Linked DNA regions of Homo sapiens: region 1 is linked to region 2. A link means that fine-mapping ties the variant in region 2 to the expression of a gene that starts in the linked region. Tissue or cell type: whole blood. Region 2 holds a variant in brackets; the other region holds the start of a gene. All regions are shown on one strand. Distances are from middle to middle.

The links. PIP is the estimated chance that this variant, and not a neighbour inherited with it, causes the effect.
Region 1: it holds the start of SYNE3, and the variant in region 2 is fine-mapped to the expression of SYNE3 in whole blood (TOPMed, PIP above 0.99).

What each region holds. Positions count from the first base shown.
Region 1 is chr14:95,512,411-95,520,410 of GRCh38, forward strand. It overlaps SYNE3 (spectrin repeat containing nuclear envelope family member 3), which reads right to left and starts at 4,240. Exons shown (of 18, transcript NM_152592.6): 1 at 4,186-4,240. It overlaps SYNE3-AS1 (SYNE3 antisense RNA 1), which reads left to right and starts at 3,710. Exons shown (of 2, transcript NR_188030.1): 1 at 3,710-3,810; 2 at 4,594-5,501. RefSeq lists silencers at 3,642-3,936, 3,686-4,495 and an enhancer at 5,920-6,069.
Region 2 is chr14:95,412,161-95,420,412 of GRCh38, forward strand. It overlaps SYNE3 (spectrin repeat containing nuclear envelope family member 3), which reads right to left. Exons shown (of 18, transcript NM_152592.6): 18 at 1-5,866. The coding sequence ends at 5,666. Among named protein-coding and RNA genes, the nearest start is that of LINC02292, 87 kb to the left of the region's middle. The variant C/G (reference allele first, on the strand shown) is at 4,564.

The DNA.
Region 1 (8,000 bases), 100 kb after region 2:
AGGCATGGTGGCACATGCCTGTAATCCCAGCTACTCAGGAGGCTGAGGCAGAACAATGGCTTGAACCTGGGAGGTGGAGGTTGCTGTGAGCTGAGATTGTGCCACTGCACTCCAGCCTGGGCAACAGAGTGAGACTCTGTCTCAAAAAAATAAATAAATAGGCTGGGCACGGTGGCTCATGCCTGTAATCCTAGCACTTTGGGAGGCTGAGGTGGGCAGATCACGAGGTCAGGAGATCAAGACCATCCTGGCTAACACGATGAAACCCCGTCTCTACTAAAAAAAAAAATACAAAAAATTAGCCGGACGTGGTGGTGGGCGCCTGTAGTCCCAGCTACTCGGGAGGCTGAGGCAGGAGAATGGCGTAAACCCGGCAGGTGGAGCTTGCAGTGATCCGAGATCAGGCCACTGCACTCCAGCCTGGGTGACAGAGCAAGACTCTGTCTCAAAAAATAAATAAATACATACATAAAATAAATAAAAAATAACACTCACAAGCCTACCACTGGACTGAAGAAACAGAACATAATGGATCCCACTGAGAGTGAAACAGACATCTCCCTGATCAATTACCCACTTCTCCCCAAAGATAATCACCTTGATTTTGCATTATCATTCCCTTGCCTTTTTCTTTTTTAAACCAGCTTAACTTTGTGAAATAGAATCTACGTATAAAGGCATGTATAAAACATACATGTAATTAGCCAGTAACTACAAAGTGATCTCCTTTGTAACTGCCCCCCCGACTCTCCTGATCCTCTCTCACCTTTCCTCAGCACGCGTGGTAATGCTTGGCTTTTATTTAAGCTAATCACCTTCTTGCTTTTTGTCGTCATTTTACTTCTCAGCTATGTGTCACTAAACAACTCATTGCTTAGTTTGGTTGTGTTTTGAGCTTTTATAATTGCCTTAGCAGTTCTCCATGGAGATGCTAGGATTCTCTATACCACGTCTGCAGCCTAGAAACCCAGGCGAGAGATCCAGGCTGCACTCTGGTGTTACAATGATAGTAGAGGGTTAGTAATAATAAAAACCATCAGTCCTATTTATGGTGTGCCCGCACCATGCCGGGCATTCTGCTAAAGCATCATCCCCAGTTACCTCAATTATCTTCGCAGCAACCCCAAAAGGGAAGTATTTCAAGAGGTCAAAATTAGGGCATCAGCTTCCCAAACTTGTCCCCCGTCCACTTCCTAGCTTCCTAGCTGCTCAGCCCCAGAACATCATCCCTAAGTCCTAAAGCAAAGGTTCCTTTCAGGATGGGAGGGTCAGGAAACACTGCTGCTCCTGGGTTCCTATCTTTGTGGTCCAGTCAGGCTGCTTAGATTATATATATATATATATATATATATATATATATATTCAGAATCCATATTCTTTTCCAGCAAGTACTGATGACTTAATGAAGACAAGCATCCTGTCCGGTCAGTACTGTTTTCCCAGTGATGAACGTACAACTTTGTCCTTGGATTGTCTAAGATAGGCCATGTGGTGCCAGGAAGAGCATCAGGTCAAAAGCCCTTAGTTCTAATCCTGGCTGTACCACATCCAGCCGCTGGATATCAGCCTTCTCATCTGTAAATGGGCAAGCAATGACAGCCTTGCCTACTACCAGATCCTAGGAGGTGAGAGGCAGGAAGAGCTTTGGAAGACCCCACGAACACATTTGAGTCCCTCTGTAGGCTTCTCTAGAACCCTTCAGAGTTGAAAGGGGTGACCAGGAACCTGGGAAAGAGTCCCAGGGCAGCCCAGGGTTGGAGCTTCAGGGCCAAAGTGGTTAACTGAAAATATTCATTATCACCCCGCCCAGGCTGGAGTCCCCTGGCTTCCAGTTTTGAAGCAGAGGTCAGCTAGGCGGTGTAGGACACTGCTCCTGGGTTGACCAATGGGCCACATCAATGGGTCAGCTGTTTGGGGTCAAGAGCCTCCTGCCCTCCCTGGGGCCAAGGGCCAGCTTTCAGTGCTGGGAGGACCATGAGGGGGGTGAGCCAGGACTACCCACCATTGACAGACAAGGGGAAATCAAGGCAGGGAGAAGAGGGGCAGAGGCAGAGCAGAGGGGAACCCAGGTATCCCGACGAGGCCCCTTCGCCTCAAACTGTGACACCTTCTCACATGTGCTGTGTCTGACACCATACAAAATGCTGATCAGGGCAAAGCTCGTTTAGTGCTCATGAGGCCCTGCGAGGCAACACCTGCCGTGCTATGGTTAGCCCCTTTCCACGGGGAAGGACGCTGAAGCTCTGAAAGGTGAAGCAACTTTCCCAAGGCTACACAGCCAGGAACGGGCTAAGGCAGGACTGGACTCAGGCAATCCAACTTGACTGCCCCATTCCTAACAGCTGGACAATGCGGGAAGCCTAGCTGCCCAGTGGGTTCCCAAAGGCTCCAGGGTGCTTTTGACGTTGAGCTGGGCCTGCCCAGTCTTGCCTCCCGGGGCCGCCAAGCCAGGGCCCCCCGGCAGCCCGCTCCAGGCTGCATCACAAGGCAAAGGGGCTGCCCAGGCATGGCCAGGTCCATGGCTGCTGGAGAGCATGCAAAGCACCCGAGCAGGAGCCTTGTTCCCATGGAGACAGACAGAAAGGACTCCAACTCACTCTGAAGTGTACCTGCAGGGAGCCAGGTGCCAGACTGTACCTGGAGGCAGAAACCTGAGCCTGGATTCTCACCACTTCCCTCTGTGCCACCAACACATCCTCAGGCCTTCTTCTCAGGACCCCCAGCAAGACACGAGTTCCAGAAATAAGACATCCCAGCCCACTTCCCGCTCAGCCACCCCCAGAGGGGCCTCTCTGGTTGAAAACAACGCCTGGGGCCAGCAGGCTTGGCACAGCTGTGGCTGTCAGCCTGCCGAGCACCGTCCGGCCTGAGGAATGTGCAGACCCACATGTGCTGGAGCATCCCGCTGGGGCACAGTGACAGGAAACTGAGCAAAACAGCTCGTTGGCACTGATATGCCCCTCCCACCTCCCAGCTCCTGACTCCTATGGGCTGTTGGCTGCCCTGGAAGTGCAGGCGGCAAGCCCAGGCCCTTCAAGAGAGCCAGGCAGTGTGGCTCTGGGCAAATCACTCCCCCTCTCTGGGCCTGTTTCTGCTTCTCTTGGTGGATGAAGGACGCTGTCCTGCCAAGCTCAGAATGGCAGTGATTTTATGACATGCTCTCCTTTCTGGGAGGACGGTCCATTCTCCTCATGCCCTCATTCATGTGGGATGGGGCATGCCCCCAAGACACATCAAGCTATCCCACTAGCAGCCCTTGGCTGTAGAAAGCCCCCCCACCCAGTGCAGGGATAAGGGTGACCCTTCAGAGTTGAAAGGGGTGACCAGGAACCTGGGAGAGTCCCAGGAAAGCCCAGGGTTGGAGCTTCAGGGCCAAAGTGGTTAACTGAAAATATTCATTATCACCCCGCCCAGGCTGGAGGCCCCTGGCTTCCAGTTTTGAAGCAGAGGTCAGCTGGGCGGTGTAGGACACTGCTCCCGGGTTGACCAATGGGCCACATCAATGGGTCTGCTGTTTGGGGTCAAGATCCCAAGACCCCAGGGGAAGTCAACATCCATCTGAGGCTCTCTCAGGCCCTGCAAGCCATCTCTGGCCTCACTGCCCTCCCCTTTAGAAATGTGGGAATGAGGCTCAGAGAGGTTGAGCTGCTTGCCAAGTTTGCATAGCCAAAAGGCGTCTGAACGAAACTGAGCATTCGGGGTTGGACTTCCCCTCTTCGCCGCCTGCTCTGCTCTCCCAGGCACTACTGAGCGCGCTCGCGGTCGCCAGGAGCGGATTGGGCCCCCGCCGCGCGCAAGCCTTGGTGACAGGTCAGCCCGCCCCTAGGGGAGGCAGAGGGAAGCCCCGAGGAGGCACCCGGCCCGCTGGGGCGCGCTGCCCGGGGCTTTAGGGCTTTTTCTTGTGGGCCGGCCGAAGCTCCCCGGGGTTGAAAGGAAAGGCTCGGGAATTTCGCAGCCAGCACAGAACGGTTGGATTTAAACTAAAAATACCCGCCCGCCCGCAGCTGTCACGCCGGGGCCCCCGCCCCCGCGCCGGGCGCGCCTCCCCAGGTCCCCCAGACTTTCGGCGCCCCCGATTCCCGGGGCTGTGTCAGAGCTGGGCCAGGGGCTGAGGACCCCACCCGCCCGGCCCCCGGCCCCCGGCCCCCGGCCCCAGGCCTGGCCTCCCGGCCCCGTGCCACTTACCCTCCCGGAGCGTGGAGGAGCGCGGCGCCGCGGGTAGCTGGGGCCGAGCCTCCTTCCCTCCTCCCTGCGTCCCGGGCGGCTCCGGGGCGGGGCAGGGCTGGGGCGGGCCCGGACACCGCGAGTACCCCCGCCCCCGCCGGGACCCGCCCGGTGGCCCCGCGGGAGAGGCCGCGCCCCTCTCCGCACGCGCTCAGCGGAGGCCCCGGGTGCGCAACCCCAGCCCGGCGGACATCCTGCGTGGCCCCGGGGACCAGGGCCGAAGAAAAGCCTCACCGCTCCCTGTCGCGGACCCGGGGCGGGGGTTAAGGGGGGGGTCCTGTCCACGCTTGCCTGGAAAGCAGCCCGGAGCCCTGGCCCCTGTCTGTCTCCCCGACACACACACAGCCACCCACCCTCTTCTCATCCTAGGGGATGGCGCGGAGCTGCCTCTCCGGGAAAGTTGGATCTGTGCGCCCAGACATGGAAAAGGGATTAGGACACCGGCAGATCTTGCCCTCACAGAGCGGAGGTGGGGGCCTTGGAAGGGGCACACCGCCCGTAGGCGCGAAATCCAAGAAGAAAATGACACTCATCAGCCAGCCTCGCGCGGGGAGAAAGGGCGGGGTGGGGGGTAGTGGCACCCTGCCCGTCCTCTCCCACCCCCACAGTCCGGGCCCACAGTCCAGGAGTCACAAGGGATGTGAATCCCCAGGCATAATGTGAACCCCCAACAAACCCAAGGCCTCAGAATGCGCCTCACCTCTCCCTCCCCACCAGCAGAAACATCCTCCCACTCTCCCAACCCCTGCTCCAGCCACGCCAACCCTTTAACCTTGTCCCAGAATGTCTAAACTGTATCTGCCTCTGTGCCTGTGCACATGAAGTTGCCTTGGCCCGGCGTTTGCTCCACAGCCTTCTGCCAAACTCCTACTGCTTGATGGCTGGAAGCCTTCGCACCCTGGCGCTCTCCTCCCAGGTCAGCAGTCACTGGCCTTCCTGTGCATCCAGCCCAGCTTTGAACAGTCCTGGGCCCCAACCCTTATCTTTTTCCGAGTAATTACATGGTTGCATGATTGGCTTCACCGCCTCTGGATCAGATGAGCGCTACTAATGAAGGATACAAGTTGTAAAACTAGGTTTTATGTGAACTCCAGTCATCACAGTTTAGGTGCGGCTAGCGATTTTACAGATGCGGGGTTAGTAACTGGCCCAAATCCAGGGCTTCCGGGATGCTGTTTTCCTTTTTTGTTTCTTAGCAGGGATGGCAGATGTTTGTAGAACAGATCCGTGTAAAAGTCAGTATCCTAAGAGATTAAATTGTAAAGCAGGACAAGATAGTTAACGGTGTGTGTGTGTGTGTGTGTGTGTGTGTGTGTGTGTGTATGTCTTTTCCAAATTGAGAGGGAGGTAGAAGAATTAGCCAAAACCCAGGATTCACTCTGAGGTAGACCCACACCTCTTAGTTAGATCCCATTTATTAAGCTGTAATTATTCACAGCGTTGCTGAAGATATACACAGGGCCCCTCCCATCTCCCTGCGACTGACTGGTTCCAAGTATGCTATTATATGTGTTATTATCACTGTGGCTCAATTAGAAGTGCTGCCGAAGGCCTTGAGGTTGCCACAGTCAAACTGCAGGTGCAGGCAGCGAGTAACAATGATTATAATGCCTGCATCTGGATCGCGCTTTTTGCTTTTCAGAATGCTTTCAAATGTGTCTCCTCATTAAATCTCTGCAAACATCCTCCAGGTAGTTAGGAAAAGTTTAATGAGTTTTGCCTGACAAGGGAAACCAAGACACAAAGAGGGCAGGTGACTTGCACAAGGAGAGAGATGGCTCCCCCAGGCTGCTCCAAGGGTGGAGCTGGCCACTGTAACTCAATGTCCTGCAGGAAGAGATGGTTGGGTACAGTTAGGAGCTCAGGCTCTAGTGCCAAAGTGCCCAATTTGCAACTTTCAGCTGATTACTCATACTTGGTTTCCTTTTCTGTTGAATAGATCTAATAATAGGAGCTTATCTTGTATGGTTTTGTGCCTGGTATTTGAGCACCCAACTCAGGCGAGCTGTTATGTTATGGTTCTGGGAATGGTATGATTGCTACAGTTTCTGCCATACAGCTATTCAGTCTTTCGTCAAACATTCCTGAGTATCTACTATGTGCTAGTCTCTGGGAATATGAAGAAGAATGAGGCATAGACTACTACCTCCAAGGAGGTCAGGGTGTAATAATTCTGTGTCAGGGGACCATGGTGCACAGAGATGAACTGTCCCTCCTGCTGCCGGTGCAGTGCAGAGCACCAGTTCAGAGCAGTGGAGATATTCACTTTCCAGGCCCAGCTTTGCTACTTATTTAGCTGAGTGAATCTTACACTGTAAGATTCTGTTACACATACAGTGTGCACATACAGTCTAATCTTACACTGAATGTGACCTCTTACAACATTGGTTTTTCTCATCTGTTAGATGGGGATAGCAATAATTTTTCATAGGTGAAAACACATGTGATAAACATATTTTATAAAGTACAAAATACTGTGCAGATAGTTTTGTTATTATCAATGTGATTGTTATTATCTTGGGCTTTACAGGGCTTGCTGCTTTTCAGAATACTCTCCCATTCCATTGCTTTTCTTAGAGTCTCGCTCTGTCACCCAGGTTGGAGTGCAGTGGTGCAATCTTGACTCACTGCAACCTCCTCTCAGATTCAAGCAACTCTTGTGCCTCGGCCACTTGAATAGCTGGGTCTACAGGCACACACCACCACACCCAGCTAATTTTTTGTATTTTTAGTAGCGACAGCATTTCACCATGTTGGCCAGGCTGGTCTCGAACTCCTGACCTCAAGATATCTGCCTGCTTGGCCTCCCAAAGTGCTGGAATTACAGGTGTGAGCCACCATGCCCGGCCATCCATTACTTTTCTTAAGCCTGACATAAACATCACATCAAAAACAGAACCCTATTTTTTATTTGATGCCAATCTTTTTCTCTCCAAAGTAGTCCACATGGAAGGAAAACAAAAGTTGAGTAAGCAATGCGAAGGGATGGGGCAGTTTACAACTAGGAAGTCCACAATACCTTCGTCTTCAGCATTACCTGCAGCTACATAAGGGGGTGGACATGAAAACCCATCTGGAAAAAAAAATCTGGCAAAGGATTGGGGGAAGAGCCCCTTTGTCATCTCTGGAATTGAACACAGGAAACCCCGCCCTGAGACCTTCCTTTCAGAAGCAGCCCAGAGAGGGAACCACAAGAAGGGCACTAAAATTATGCTGTTCGGAAGTTCTGACTCACTTGGCAGCGCGGGCTGTTTGTGCAACGTACCAAATGTCCTCCAAAAAGCGAAGTTTTTACCACTCTTTCCCTCTGTCCCTTCCCTGCAGCCAGCATCTCCACCACCACTCATGGGGAAGCAGGAATCAATTTAATAAGCCTGGGGAAATTATCTGGGTCTGTTTCACATTTGCTGTTGGTTAGCCAGCTTCAGTGGCAATCTGCACAATCCTCATTTTGTAAGCATGATTTTTTCAGTTGTTTGTGTGTGTGTGTTCAGTCTCCACAGATAGATTACAACAAAAGCTGCAATGGCTTTTCTGGCTAATAAAACACCTCATGGGTAAACTGAGGCAAGAGAGTAGGGACGAGGGGCATTGCCCAGGGTTCCAGGATAGGAATTGCTGTTCAGAACATTTACATTCCCATCTCTCCATCTCTAGCCTGGCTTCCCACTTAGTGGTGAAGTACATAAGTGCTTTCAGCTTAATACGGATGAAAAGCTCACATTAAGGGTGCCCACTTCTGGGGTGCCCCATCAGAGAGGTCTTGGTCTGAGCCT
Region 2 (8,252 bases):
CCTTGACCCACTTCCTCTGCCCGGTATGGTTCATAGTCACAATGGTGGCCTCCAAGAGGCAGCAAGACACTCTCATGCCCTGTTCCGAGCTCTCCCACTGTCTCCCCTGTGTGGCTCTTCCAGTTTCTGTGACAGTGGGCCTGCCCCCTCTGGAAAGGCAGATGGGCAAAGTCAAGGGCAATGACTGCAATCCCGTTGGGCATCTTCAATGGCACAAACCCTTTTCTTCGTCTGCAAGCTCCCTGAGGGCAGGGACTGGGCTTTGTTCACCCCGAATCTCCCAGCACAAAGCCTGGCACAGGCTGGAGAATGCTTGTTGCATTGGATTAAGATGCAAAGAGGCACAGGGCACTTCTGCCCACCAACCAGGGGAGAGAAAGCCGCAGACCCCGGACAGCATCCGAATGGCCAGTGGGAAGGCAGGGCCAGTGAGCACCTGGGTTTTATTTTTTTAGAGGCCACAGCTGGCAGGCTCCTGGCCTCCCCTGAACCCAGTTGCCACAACTTTCCACGATGTCCCTCTTCCCATTTCTCTTTCCTTCTCTCCCTCGGGGACTCCTGCACTAAGCAATCCTCAAGCTGCTCTCTTCTCCCAACCATCTCCTGGGTTCCCAAACTTTCAGACAGCATGTTTTTCCAGGAAGAATACTGTATGGGGAGCAAAACCAACATAGAGTTGGCAACTTTTTATTTTGTCCAATGAGGGCTCCCAAAACACAATAGAAACCATCAAAGAAGACAGAGCCACCTTTACCTATCCCTCATTTCCTAAAGGCCATTGAGCACCCTTGAAGTAGGAGGGACATAATCCCAGAATGAAGAGCCAGCGTTTGGGCAAAATAAATCCTATGGAAAGAAAAACTCAAGTTGTTCCCTCGTATTGTTTCACTTGCCTTTGGTCAGTGAAAGCTTTGCCACTAGCGCTTGTCCTCAGAGGAAAGTTGGGAACCATGAAGGCACAGCCTGCCATTCCCATTCTCTTTTTCTCTCTCTCTATCCCTCCCTCCCTCCCTCCCTTCCTCCTTTTCTCTCTCTTCTCTCTGTCTCTTTTGCTCTCACTCTCTCCTCTCACCCTCAAATTGTGGTAAAATAAACATAACATAAAATTTAGCATCTTAACCACTTTTAAGCACACAGTTCAGTAAATCAAGCCTGACATCACCTCTGGCCTTTGACTCCCTCTGGCCCACTTCCCCGTCCGCCCTCTCCAGCCAGACCACCATAAAGTGCAGTTCCTCAAAGCTTCTGCAAAGCCTCCCAGCTTCCCAGTCAGGCCTGGCTCCAGTCTAATGGAAGAGATAAGATCCCCTCTTTACTCCCTAACTGTGGGCAGCCCCAGCCTCCCATCCCCTGCAAGGCAGGGCAGGATGATGCCACCGGTCCCAGTTTGCCAGCTGTAAAATCCATTAGGGAACATCCAGCACAAACCACCCGCCTTCAGGCCTTTTCCTGCCCTCTGCCTGTCATTCTCCTTGGCCCCCAGGGTGCAGAGGGTCCCCAGCTTCCTTCCCCTGAAGATGCCCGGAGACAAGCATCTTTGGACCCCCGGTCCCTGCAGGGAACTCCAGCCAGCTGCCTGAAGCAAACGGGGCCTGAGAGATGGAATTGGGTCAGGTCATCCTTGACCCATTTCCTCTGGAAGGGAGTCGGGTGTCAGGAAACACATTTGCCTTTGGGTTTTTAATGTAATTCAACAAACCACAGCTGAAGCTCTTATCCTGTGCTGGGCATTGGGGGTGTGGAGTTCTGTCATTCATGACCGAGGACCTCATCATGAGACATTAGAGGGGCTCATCTTCCAGGTGAGCAATGTGAAGATAATGATAGATGGCCCAAGGGAATGTGCTGCTGGTGGTGACTCATCTCAGAGCTGAGGGCAGTCCCTCAGGGAAACATTTGGATGCTCCGCTCTGGCCATGTCCCAGGCGAGCTGATGGGCAGAGAGTTCTGCCTGCTTGCCCAGGGAACTCCATTCCCAGAGGCTACAGAGACTGCAACCTGGTAGAACCAGCCTGAAGCCCCCCTCCAGCCTGGGCTTTGGGGTCCTCATTGCCCCATGTTGTGGGTTTGGACCCACTTCAGCATGAGCAAGGGTCTTTATATCTTTAAGCCTCAGGGTTCCATCTCAAACATGGGGGTAAAACAGTATCAAACCCTGGGGGCAGGTGTCGATGTGGGAATTACATAAAGCAAGGCTGCAAAGTGCCGCCCAAGGGGCTCAAGCACCCACGAGCACCAAACGAGCACATTCTTTGTCTCCCTTGTCGGTGTTCCCTCTGTCCCGCCACCACTGGGCACCTCCCAGGGTCTCCTCGCCTCGTCTGCTGTCAGTACCTGCCCATCCCTCCCGCTCCCAGCTTTTCTTTTTAAACACCCTCTGGGTGCTGCATGTGCCTTTCCACATGCAGAGAACGGGCTAAGAAAGAAAGGGGTGGGAGGGACAGGTAAGCAGGGATAACTAATTCATCAACCGACCCACTGGTGGTCCTTTCTCCCTCCTCTCCTTCCCTCCTCTCTCTCTCTCTGACACACACACACACACACACACACACACACACACACACACACACACGCCACAGCGCCACCTTTCTCAAGTAGCACCTTAAAGCTCTGCATGGCTGTTAAAGAGGCTGGAAACTAAAGTCATAAGAATAATTGCCTGGCTCTCCTTTAAGCAAAGGAGATTGCACTTGTGCTTGGAAGCACCAGTAACTGGGCTGTTACGTTATATTACAAGTATATTTATATGAAAATACTGAAAATATCAATTCTTTTTTAAAAAACAGTTATGCAAACAAACAGACTTGATGGCATCATTATCAAAATTTAAAAAATATAGGTAGATATTCCCACCCCCGCCCGCATGTTCCAGCTTCTCCTTCCCCAACATGTGGTATATGTGACAGGCTGCATACATGCCCAGTGGCTGTTTTTTTCATGTAGTTGCTGACATGAGCGGATCATACCACAATGAGCAGGGTACCACCTGAGGGCCATGGTGGCCAGTTGGGCTCTGGCCTTGCTGCCTCTCACTGTGTGGCCATGGATCAGTTTCTTCCCCATTCTGGGCCTCAGCTTTCTCACCTGTGACATAGGAAAGTGGACACCTGGCAAGGCCCCCCCACCCACCCACCCTGCCACTGCTCTGACTTCCAGGACTGGACATCTGGGCTTGGCTGCCTGGGCTCACTCAGCTCCTGATTTTCCAGTAAGGTGGTCGCCTGCAGAGAACGGCCCTATGGCTTGGTTTCCAGATATCTGGAGAAAAGTGTGCTTTCTCTTCTTCCATGAAATCACAAATTTCTCTAGATATTTGGAAACCAAGTCACAGGGTTGTAGGATCTACTTTTTGAACTTTTCATCCCCTGTAGTTGCCAATTCTGCATGTACTAGTCTTGTAGAAATAAGTTAAACTGAAGCAGCTTGAGGGAAGGAACTTGATGGAAGGATGGAGAGTCTACAGGGCTTGTTTTCCAAAGAAAAGTGTTGTTTGGAGGAGCATAATTATAAGCCTACAGCTTATCATAAAGCTATTCAAAAAAAAAAAAAAATGGCCAGGCATGGTGGCTCATGCCTGTAATCCCAGTGCTTTGGGACGCTGAGGTGGGCGGATCACCTGAGGTCAGGAGTTCGAGACCAGCCTGGCCAACATGGTAAAACCCTAACTCTACTAAAAATACAAAAATTAGCTGGGCATGGTGGCAGATGCCTGTAATCCCAGCTATTTGGGAGGCTGAAGCAGGAGAATCGCTTGAATCTGGGAGGCGGAGGTTGCAGTGAGCCGAGATCGCACCACTGCACTCCAGCCTGGGCAAAAAGAGCGAAACTCCATCTCAAAATAATTATAATAACAATAATAATAATAACTCAGAGCCAGGCTTGTGGATGGAAATATAGTGCCCAAGTCACATTCTGCTTAAAGTTGTAACAAATACAGACGAGTTAAAAGAAAAAAAAAAGTACGCTTTCTGAGTCAGCCCCAAGGGCTCTCCTTGGCAGCACGGGTTTCCTGCCGGTGAAATGTCCTAGTTGCCTAGGACCCGGGTCCCCAAGGGCAGAGCTCACAGTGAAAGGCAAAGGGTCAGTGTGTGTGAGACAGCAATGGTGCTGGGTATCAGGCCCTCTTAGGTCCTCAGTTTCCCCTCTACTTAAAGGGCCTTTCTGGGTCTATAATACCTTATGATTCCAAAGCCGGACAGAAGGTCCGAGGAAATCCCCTCGTATTTGTAGTTGAACAGACAAAATCCATTTGTAGAGAGTGGGCATTAAGTACTTTTTTAAAGGGGAAAATTTAGTGTTGATTTAGGAAAAACATGATCCAGTTGTAGAGCACTTAGGAACCATCCCAGAGTTCCCTGGCAAGGAAGGGATGAGTTTCTGGCCTCGGGAACTCACATGGAGTCACCGCGGCCCCAGCCCAGGTGGTGCATGGAGCCCAGCTCGCCTACACCTGGCTGGAGAGGGCCTGGTTTTGGGTGGCCTGGGCCCTAGTCCCATATGGGGATGCACATGAGACCTTCTTGGCCCCATAGACCTGCTGTCTCCAGAGTCTTTTCTGGGAAG[C/G]GGAAGGAGAGCCCTTGAGACAGGCTGAACTCCAAAGCAGATTCTCTCACCTCTGTCCTGGACCCTCGATCCCTGGCCCCTGGCGTGGCAGATGCTTCCCTTCTCACCTGCAGCTCGAGCTCTCGACGATGAAAACTCAGTCCAGGAGCAACAGAGGAAACACATCTTTCCTGGGCACTGCCAGTGGGTGCTGCCCACCGAGTGTGCCTCACCATTCTGCATGGAAATCTTAAAAATCAAGCTTGTCTTCTTCCCTTTCTCCCTGAATGAAACACACAGAGCAGGATCTCACCGTTTCATGGGGGCTCGGTGTCATCACCAGGGACAGTCCTCATAGGTCTGTGTGATCAGAAGCCGCTGAGAGCTGGGGTTAGGGCTCCGGCATGCAATGCCTCCACACAGCTGTGCTTTCTTAGTTCGGGGATCTGCTCTCTGCAGCTCTTCTTTTTCTCCCTCGATATCACTCTGTCACTTGTCACTGCTATCATTGAACCTGCCTCTGGTCATTGCCATTTCTACTTCTGACACGTGGCAGCTACTCTTTGTGGTTGTTAAAACTAGACAAGCATACTTGTTCTCATTACGCATAAAGCAAGAGTCGCTGGGCACCAAGTGAGGGTCTATGGCGCTCTTCCACGTTGCAGCTCAGAGGCCTTTCATTACATCTGAATTCTGGGATTCGCTTTGGAGAAGAGGTTGCCATGAAAGTGACATGTTATTGTTCTTGCTTTCTAGGGTTGACTGCAGACCAAGTCAACAATACCACAAAATCCCATTGGAGGGAGCCATTGCTAGGAATTTTCCCAACTCCAAATAGAACTCGTATATGAAATTATACATACTGAGCATTTACATACAGATCATATAAAAATTCTAGACATTATTCCCTAGTCACATGTAGTACACATTTAGTATAAATAGACTAAGACAACACTGTATAAAAAGTAAGTGTCTTCTGGGAACGCTGACACAGCACTGATATGGATGCAGCTCTGCAGTCTTTGCCCTGCCCCTGTTTCCAGTTTCCCTGGCGAGCATCCTCAGGAGGGGCCCTGGGACTGATGGAGGTTGGAGGAGAAAGTCACCTGTGTGCCCCAGTGGGTTAGGTGGGTGGTGGGCCATTGTAGCGCAGCATGAGCGTGAAGGAGCGGGCGAAGTTGTTGGCCAGGGTGCAGCTGCGGTCCTCTTCCCTGATTGGGAGCAGGAACAGCAGGAGGAGGAACAGCAGCAGAAGCAGCTGCAGTGGGAGCGCCACACAGCACGCCCTCCGGAAGAGGGAGCCCAGTCCTCGCCACCGCCGAGTCTGCGGAACCAACACAGCACAGGTGAGTGGGCTGGGGGGCTCTGGTGGTGGGGGGCAGGTTCAGGGGGCGAGGAGGATGCCAGGAGCGGTGGTAGCACTGAACTGACTGTATGACAGTACACATCTCCAGGTTCTCATCTGTGAAACAGGGCTAATGTAAGTTTTAACAGAAACAGGGTTTCTGCAGTTTTCCCAAAGCATTCAAGGCATGAAAGGAAGAATAGAAAACACAGTTGCAGGCTCTGCCATTGTGACATATATCTTTGCCTGGTGTAGCAGAGTGCTGGCTGTGAATCCTAAGGTCACTTGACTTCTCTGAATCTCTAGTTTCTCATCTTCAGATGGGGCAATAATGGCACCTACATGACAGAATTGTCATGAGGATCCAATGAGGCAGAGCCTGGCACATAGTAAGTATGTACCAGCTGCTGTCATGATTAGTATGCATCCTTAATATTTCACCATCTAAATCTTCGTCATCACCATCATCACCAGCATCAAATTTATCATCGTCACTTTCTTCCTCCTCTTGTCTTTCTTCCCTTTCCTCTTTTTCCTCCCCCTCTTCCTTTTCTTTCTTTCTTTTTTTTCCTTTGAGATGGAGTCTCGCTCTGTCGCCCAGGCTGGAGTTCAGTGGTGTGATCTCAGCTCACTGCACCCTCCACCTCCCAGGTTCAATCAATTATCTCCCTCAGCCTCCCGGGTAGCTGGGATTACAGGCACCTGCCACCATGCCCAGCTAATTGTTTTGTATTTTTAGTAGAGATGGGGTTTCACCATGTTGGCCATGCTGGTCTTGAATCCTGACCTCGTGATCCACCCTCCTTGGCCTCCCAAAGTGCTGGGATTATAGGTGTGAGCCACCGCGCCTGGCCCCTCTCTTCTTTTCCTCCCTCTTTCCTTCCCTCTTCTCCCTCTCTTCCTCCTCCTCCTTTTATTTCATCATCAATTTCATCACCATCACTATTGCCATCAGTATCACATGAAGGTTAGTCTCACAAGTCCAAATGCCTAATGGACTTCTCTGCTACAATGTCCCTGAAAGTGGCCAAGAAAACATTTCCTAAGTTCTGGAGGGACTGGCCAGGTTGTGGCTTCATGGATGTCTGACTGCCAAGGAGTGCAGGGGCAAGAGCTGGTCACTCAGAAGAGTGAGGCCCTCATGGTCAAGATGCTGCAGAGTGCAGGACGAGCCCAGCTTTTAGGATCCTAGCAGACTGGGTCCCCACCCAGACTCTGTTACTCAACAGCTATGTGACCTTGGGCAAATCAATATTGGATCCTCTGTTATCTGCTCTGCAAAATGGGGATCAAACACCTACCCCTATTTGCTGGGCTGTGGTGAGGGCTCAAAGCAAAGGTATATATATACCTTGATTGATAAATGTACCAGTTCTTACTATTAGTACTATTAATACTTATTTATAATAATAGTGCTAGCACTATTAGTAACTGTTAGTGACATTCATCACTATTAATATTAGTAATCATAGCACTAGTACTATTATTATAGAATATATCTGCTGGCTCCCTAAAGAACCAAGGTTCACCCTCCAGGGCACCAAAAGCCACAGTCCCGTGATGATGATAGTGATAGTGACCATGGCGATGGAGGTGATGGCAATGATGGCAGTGATGCTTGATGATGGTGGTGATGCGATAATGATCATGACGCTAATGGTGGTGGGGTGGGGGTGGGGTGGTGAGAGTAAGGTGGTGATGATGGTGATAATGATCATGGAAATGGTGATAATGGTGATGATCATGGTGACTGTGATGGTGATGGTAAGTGTGAGTGATAGAGATGATGATGGTGATGGTGATGATGGTGATGGAGGTGATGGTGATGGTGATGATGATGATAGTGATGGTGGTGGTGGTAGTGATGGTGAGGGTGATGATGGTGATGAAGAAGCACTGTTAAATGTAAATGTTCCTGGGAGGTTCTAACCTGGGCAGTTCTGTCTCTCTACCTCTCCTCTCTGAGTCAACTCATGTATTCCCCTGCTCCAAGTATCCCCTCCAGATGATAACGCTTAACCCTGTGCCTCCAGTCTCAAATGTGTTCACTCACCAAAGTCTTTAGACACTGATTTTATAAAACAGGCTGATTATAACCATGAATAAGTACTCTTGGCTGCATGTATTTCAGCAGTGACTTCGGGAGTGGAGGGTGGGGGTGGGTGACACATTGTTTAAGCGGCTGAATGAGTGTGAGTTCACAGAGAAGGTGGTTCTTCCCATAGCTGCTGGGTTGGGTGGGGCCAAATCTCTGACCCATGAGACCCACCCAGGGAGAGAGAAAAGGGGCAAGACAATGAGCTGGAGGGCCACCCAGCCTGGGTTTCCACTGCAACTAACAACCTGTAATTAAGGTTCTCCCAAA